Linked DNA regions of Homo sapiens. The protein of the gene in region 2 interacts with the protein of the main gene of each other region in a pairwise test. Each region holds a gene or a part of one and is shown on either strand. Other genes may lie near its edges.

Evidence for each region. Proteins that work in one complex are often made in the same cells at the same time.
Region 1: the proteins of SLC30A3 (region 2) and SCN3B interact in binary tests that used the Homo sapiens proteins (3 or more experiments, as listed by UniProt).

What each region holds. Positions count from the first base shown.
Region 1 is NC_000011.10:123,630,625-123,634,124, reverse strand, and holds part of SCN3B (sodium channel regulatory subunit beta-3 precursor), read left to right. Parts: 3' UTR 1-4; intron 5-348; 3' UTR 349-3,500. UniProt on the Homo sapiens protein: Regulatory subunit of multiple voltage-gated sodium (Nav) channels directly mediating the depolarization of excitable membranes.
Region 2 is NC_000002.12:27,256,616-27,260,047, reverse strand, and holds part of SLC30A3 (probable proton-coupled zinc antiporter SLC30A3), read left to right. Parts: intron 1-1,113; coding exon 1,114-1,295; intron 1,296-1,717; coding exon of another isoform or gene 1,718-1,740; coding exon 1,741-1,887; intron 1,888-1,989; coding exon 1,990-2,143; intron 2,144-2,695; coding exon 2,696-2,894; intron 2,895-3,154; coding exon 3,155-3,260; intron 3,261-3,432. UniProt on the Homo sapiens protein: Probable proton-coupled zinc ion antiporter mediating the import of zinc from cytoplasm into synaptic vesicles and participating to cellular zinc ion homeostasis in the brain.

The DNA of each region.
Region 1 (3,500 bases), on a different chromosome or scaffold from region 2:
TGAGGTGACCTACAGGAACATGGGAGGGGAAGGCAGATGTGGATGGCAGGTTGTACAAGTGACTTTGTTGCCCACAACTGAAGTGACTTTAAATTTGGTCCCTTAGGTCACTGTCTACCCTGCCTGGGGTCCCCGCCCTCAGGGTAATTCTTTAAGTCAGAAAGCTCTGTATGATGTCAGCGCTTCGGAAGGTGAACTGCTTTGACCTGAGTGTCGAGGCAATCTGAACTTGCCCATGGTAACAGAGGCACAGGATTCTCCAACTCCCTTCTTTGGTCAAAGAATTTTTGGGCTGGGCTGGGCTGGACTGGGTGGGAAATTCTCAGTGAGTTATTTTATCTTTGGTAGGTGGCCTGAACACCTGAGGGACTGGACATCCCATGTTCAGCAATGTCAATGGCATCAGGAGGGCGCCCCAAGGGCCCCATCGCTTCCCTTCATGCATCCATTGTTCTGTTCATTCATTCATCCATACATCCACCTGCCTCTGAGCTTTCACCTCTGACTCCCTAACTCCATCAGACCTCTACGCACCATAAGACTCTGCCAGAACTGAGAAGCCAACATTTCTACATAGACTCAACCTCACCCTCTCCTAGTTTTCCAACAAGACACTCCAAAGCCAACTGGATTTCTCCCCTGTGCTCCAAATGACTTTGTACAAGTGCTGGAGTTAGCACCTCCCTCTGCCCTTAACTGGCTGGAACTGGTTCATTCTCCATTACTGCAAGAGAATGGAAGTCTTAATAGAAGGAAGCAGGAGTGATTAGTTCGGGTTAAAGCAAAAGTGTGTCATGAACTTGGATTCCCTGAAGTCAGTTTTGTCAGGTTCATGGCCCACTTTGCTACAGCATCAGAGTGAAGCACGCCTGTCTAGGTTCTCCAGTGACAGAAAGATCCTGAAGCATGGACTAACATGCTCTCTGGAGCTTAGTACTCCAGAGCTAGATCCTGATGGGTCTCTAAGGTTCCCTCCAAGAAGACAAGGACAGGAGACTTGGGAAGGACCAATGGTAATTTAAGTGGCTCTTAAAAAGTCATGCAACATGTTTCTGGACACGTTCCTGATCCTATTGCGATAATGTATGTGTGCCCTCCCTGTGGGCACACCACCTGGGCATTAGGACTGAAATTCCTGAGTTCTTCCTCTCAAAATTTCTGTGCACCAGTATTATTCCTCATTTTACATACAGGAGGCAACTAAGACTCATACAGGGCTCAACTGAATAAGAGGCTTAAGAGGATAAACTGGAGCAGAAATAAGCCTTAGGTGCTGCCCAGTTTACACTTCCTGGGATGGATGTTTTTGTTTGTTTTGTTTTTTGTTTTTTTTGTTTGAGATGGAGTCTCACTCTGTCACCTAGGCTAGAGTGCAGTGGTGTGATCTCGGCTCACTGCAACCTCTGCCTCTTGGGTTCAAGCAATTCTCATGCCTCGGCCTCTCCAGTAGCTGGGATTACAGGTGTGCACCACCACGCCTGGCTAAATTTTGTATTTTTAGTACAGACAGGGTTTGACTATGTTGGCCAGGCTAGTCTTGAACTCCTGACCTCAAATGACCCACCCACCTCAGCCTCCCAAAGTGCTGAGATTACAGGCGTGAGGCACTGCGCCCGGTGGATAACTTTGTTTCTGAAAAGACTGACATTGAACTTGTCTATGGCAATGCTTCTTTCACAAGCACGGACTGGGCTGAGGTCAACTCTGATAGATTCAGATGACTAGAAATTGGCCAAAAAAGCAGGGAGAAGAACATGAGGTAGACTTAAAGAACTTCCTTTATGTAAAGATCTGTGACTCTGAAATATCCTCCAAAAGGAGAGTGCATCTGAGACTGATATTTAAACTAAGAAAAATGTTTAGTCTGAGATGGATCATAAGTAAATGAGCAGTGTGAGAGGGGAGGGATGGGTAGGTGCTTTCCAAATACTTCGCCTATGAATGCATAATTTTCAGATTTTTTTCCCCTAGATTTTGAGGGAGCAGAGAAACTGGAAAAAACTTTAGTCAATATCTCGTGTTTCATTTTAATTAAGTGACAGGTCCAAGTGTGACATCCTTCAGCACCCAGGGACAAGAGAGGGGAAAGATGCTTTATGGAATGTAAGAAGATGAAGGTGACTGGGATTCAGCGAGAGAGAGGTCCCTCAGACCTGGGACCTCCCTTTATAGGGAAAGACCATATTCCATAGGTTTAGGGCTTTACCTTAAAAGCTCATTTTTTTCATTCTTCCATCCCTAGGAAAGTACTTAAAACCAGACTTTTAAATTTTTATTTATTTATTATTATTTTTTTGAGACAGATTCTCACTCTGTCTCCCAGGCTAGAGTGCAGTGGTGCAATCTCAGCTCACTGCAGCCTCAACTGCCCCAGGTTTAAGCAATCCTCCCACCTCAGCCCCCAGGTAACTGGGACTACAGGCATGCACCACCATGCCTGGCTAATTTTTGTATTTTATGTAGAGACAGGGGTCTTGCCATGTCGCCCAGGCTGATCTTGAACTCCTGGGCTCAAGCAATCTGCCAGCCTCAGCCTCTCAAAGTGCTGGGATTACAGGCCTGAGCAACTGTGCCTGGCCCAAAACCAGACCGTTAACACATTAAAGAGTCTGATTTTGTTGAAGAAAATATTTGCAATAAATTCAAGACTCTTCTTATTGGTAATTTTCCACACAATCCCTCTGAAATAAGGGAGAGGATATAGACCTTTTTAACTTTATAGTTAGAAAAATTGGCCTCAGTGTGAAATTTTTCCAGTCCCATAGCTCATGGATGCCACCAGCTTGCGGTAGTAGCAAGATGCTTACTACCACACCGTTTTCCTCGGTGGCCCAATAGCTCGTGTATCTAAGTTGAACCCGGCAGTATGCATGATTGCCTTTTTCTCTTCTTTTTAAAAAAACCCAACTCAGATGCTGCTTGCGTGGCTTTTAATGAAGCTGAATGGTATCTATCACTTATTTATCCTTGACAGGTTATCTTCCCCACTCTTCCTTTTTCTAACTTCTCCATTCTTCTCATTCTTGACACTTTCATTAGAACTATATGGTTTACGAAGTATTTTCACTTAACTATTTTATTTCTTCTCTATAACTGGTCCTGTGAGGTCACATTACAAAAGAAGAAACTGAGGGTCTCTGAGGTTAAGTAGCTTTACTAAATTATAAGGAAACCTAGCTGGTAGGTAGACAGCAAGAATCCAGGTCTTCTGACTCCTCTTTCAGTTCTCTTTCCACTTAGACCATAGCTGCTTCCTTTTCTTATTTTTTAGCTTCCATCTAACCATTGCCTATCTTGCCTGTCCTAATGTTCTCCATCTTCTCTCACCCCTAATCCCACTCACTGCTTCTCTACCACTTTGCTTTTTGGTGGATGCTAGCAATGTGCTTTGAGAGTCAGTCCTATTTTGGTTCTCTTTCTAGTTGGTTTGTACATCATTATTTCTCCTGAATTGCAATTAAACTCCTTCCTGGGAGATTTGATAATGACTGTAAATCAAT
Region 2 (3,432 bases):
TCATACTGCCTTGGCGTGCCTGGCATAGCATTCACCTGTCTTTATCAAAATCCTTCCCATCCTTCAAGGCCCTTCTCATGTTACCTCTTACAGCTGTTTCCCTGATTTCCTCGTTATAATTAGTCTGGCCCTCCATCCTCAGAACCCTGATAGCACTCTAACTGCCCTAATGACAGTGGCCACCTTCGCTCTATATCATTGTGTAGGTACATGCTTGCCCTGTTCACCAAAAGCTCTCAGAGATCAGTAGGAATCCTGCTCATTTTGGGGTGCCTAGCATAAGAAATTGGTTGGGGTCTAGTCTCAGCTCTAGCAACTAACTGGGTTGGCCTCCATGTGTCCCCCAACTCTGTGAGCCTCATGCCTCTAATTTATTTAATAAAATGTTAGATGAGAGCCGGGTGCGGTGGCTCACACCTATAATCCCAGCAACTCAGTAGGCTGAGGTAGGAGGATCGCTTGAGGCCAGGAACTCAAGTGTGCAGTGAGCTCTGATCACACCACTGCACTCCAGCCTGGGCAACAGAGCAAGACCCCATCTCTTTTTTTTTTTTTTGAGACAGTCTCTCACTCTGTTGCCAGGCTGGAGTGCAGTGGCACGATCTCGGCTCACTGCAACCTCCAACTCCCTGGTTCAAGTGATTATCCTGCCTCAGCCTCCCAAGTAGCTGGGATTACAGGCACGTGCCACCACACCCAGCTAATTTTTGCATTTTTAGTAGAGATGGGGTTTCACCATGTTGGCCAGGATGGTCTCGATCTCCTGACCTTGTGATCTGCCTGCCTTGGCCTCCCAAAGTGCTGGGATTACAGGTGTGAGCCACCACTCCCGGCCAACCCCATCTCTTAAAAAAGTTAGACTAGACCGTCTGTAAGGTGCTTTCCAGCTGTGAAATTCTATGGCTCTGTGTATGGAAGGAAAAGGGAGGCTGGGCTCTGACCTGTTCATTTAGCCCCGGTCTCTCATGTGGCCCTCTGCCGATGCAGCTCCCAGATACGACCAGGCCTGGGGAAGGAGATGGTCTGATGAGGCCAGCACTGGGGACTAAGGACGTGGAGTGAGCAGGCCAGCCTGTGGGCCAGGCCCAGGTTGAACCATGTTGCTTGCCTCAGTCTCTTCACAGAGCCCTCAGAGCCCCTCCCTGAGGAGTCCAAACCTGTGGAGATGCCCTTCCACCACTGCCACAGGGACCCCCTTCCGCCGCCGGGCCTTACCCCTGAGAGGCTGCATGCACGGAGGCAGCTATATGCTGCCTGTGCCGTTTGCTTTGTCTTCATGGCTGGGGAGGTGGTCGGTAAGTTGGGGAGCAGCCCTTAAACCCCATTCTCCAAATACCTGCCCAAGCCACTCTCCACCCAGAGTCCCAGGAATGTTCCTGGGTGCAGATGCAGAGATGGGGATGGCTGGGATAGGGGAGCTGGGTGCCCAGGACTCAGGAAGTAGGAGGGATAAGGGACAGCAACAAAGGGAATTCCAGCCGAGGTCCGGGGCCAGTAGGTCAGGGCTGACTTCTTTTAAAAACCCTATTTTCTTGTTATTAAAATAAATCATTGTAGAAAATAAAATACAGATGAATGAAAAAAATAACATAACAGTAGTTAATTATACCTGTAGTCCCATCACCTGAGAAAACCCCAAATCACATTTTTGGTGTATATCCCCCAATTTATTTTCCATGCCTATACACACTACATGATATTTTCTAAATGGAAGCAGACTCCATCATTTCACCCTGGCAGGCGGGTATCTGGCACACAGCCTGGCCATCATGACCGATGCAGCCCACTTGCTGGCGGATGTGGGCAGCATGATGGGCAGCCTCTTCTCCCTCTGGCTCTCCACCCGTCCAGCCACCCGCACCATGACCTTTGGCTGGCACCGTTCAGGTAAGGCCCCTGCATGGCCCAGTGACTCTCCAATCTTGCCAGAGGGCACCCGTCAGGGTCCCAAGCAGGTCTCTGACAGCTTGTCTCCCCCCCCACCCGCAGAGACTCTGGGGGCTTTGGCCTCTGTGGTCTCCCTCTGGATGGTCACTGGCATCCTCCTGTACCTGGCCTTCGTCCGCCTGCTGCACAGCGACTACCACATCGAGGGGGGTGCCATGCTGCTGACCGCCAGCATCGCAGTCTGTGCCAACCTGTTGTACGTCCCAGTATGGAGCAGGCACCTTGTGGGGCCCAGGGCGAGGGGTCTTCCTCCAGGATGGGAGAGCTGGCTCTCTCCTCCCCACCAGACACACAGACACGCACACACAGCTCTCCATGGGCTGCCCTGCGTGTGCCTGAGAAGGGTCTGGGATAGAGACCTAAAATTCAGTCAGCAGATCTCTGTCAAGGGCCTGCCATGGGCCAGCCACTCTGATGAGGGCTTTCATCAACATGATTGCATTTAAACCTCACAGCCACCCCATGAGGTAGGTAGCATTACCCCTAGTTTACCATTAATGCAGTCAATCCCAACAGGTGACTTGCCCAAGTCACATATCTATTTAAGTAACAGGGCCAGCTTCCGAATCCACATGTGTGGCACCAAGTCTGGTATTCTTTCCCCCAGGCTGCATTGTTTATCTCTCTTGCAAAATGCTGTTTTCTTCCAGGGGCTGGGAAAGGGCTACTGGGGAGGTGAGACATGGAGATGGGGGTATAGGAGGCCAGGAGCAGGGCCCTAGGCTGAGGTGCTCTGCTTACCCCTCAGAATGGCCTTTGTGCTGCACCAGGCTGGGCCCCCCCACAGCCACGGGTCTAGGGGAGCAGAGTATGCACCGCTGGAGGAGGGGCCTGAAGAGCCCCTGCCCCTGGGGAACACCAGCGTCCGGGCGGCATTTGTGCACGTGCTGGGGGACCTCCTGCAGAGCTTTGGGGTACTGGCTGCCTCCATCCTCATCTACTTCAAGGTACCATCATTGGAGACCTGCCCCAGCCTTCCTCCCCACAACCACATCCCAGCCCACTCCTTCCCAGGTCCCAAAGCTTCCTTCCTCCTCCCTCCAGCTCCTCCCTCCCACCTCCCAGGACTCTCCCAGACATGAGTCATGTTCCCTGTCCCCTCTTCAGGGTTTTGAGGGGCCTCTCAGGTCATGTTTGTTCAAGATACCCCTAGATCTTCCTCTGAAAGGTCCCTGGTTGTTGGGCTTAGGGGTCTCTTTCTCTGCAGCCTCAATACAAGGCAGCCGACCCCATCAGCACCTTCCTCTTCTCCATCTGTGCCCTTGGATCCACCGCTCCCACCCTCCGAGACGTTCTTCGAATCCTCATGGAAGGTGAGTCGGGCACCACAGCTCCCCATCCCTGTGGCCCTCTCTGACTTTACTCTCGCAGTGGGCCATCACTTTTTTCTTTGAAGATAGTACGGGAAGAAGGCTTGGCTCATGGGGTCTGCTGCTGGAACAAGGATTTGGGCATAGGGTGAATTGTAGGGGTCAAAAGGAGAGT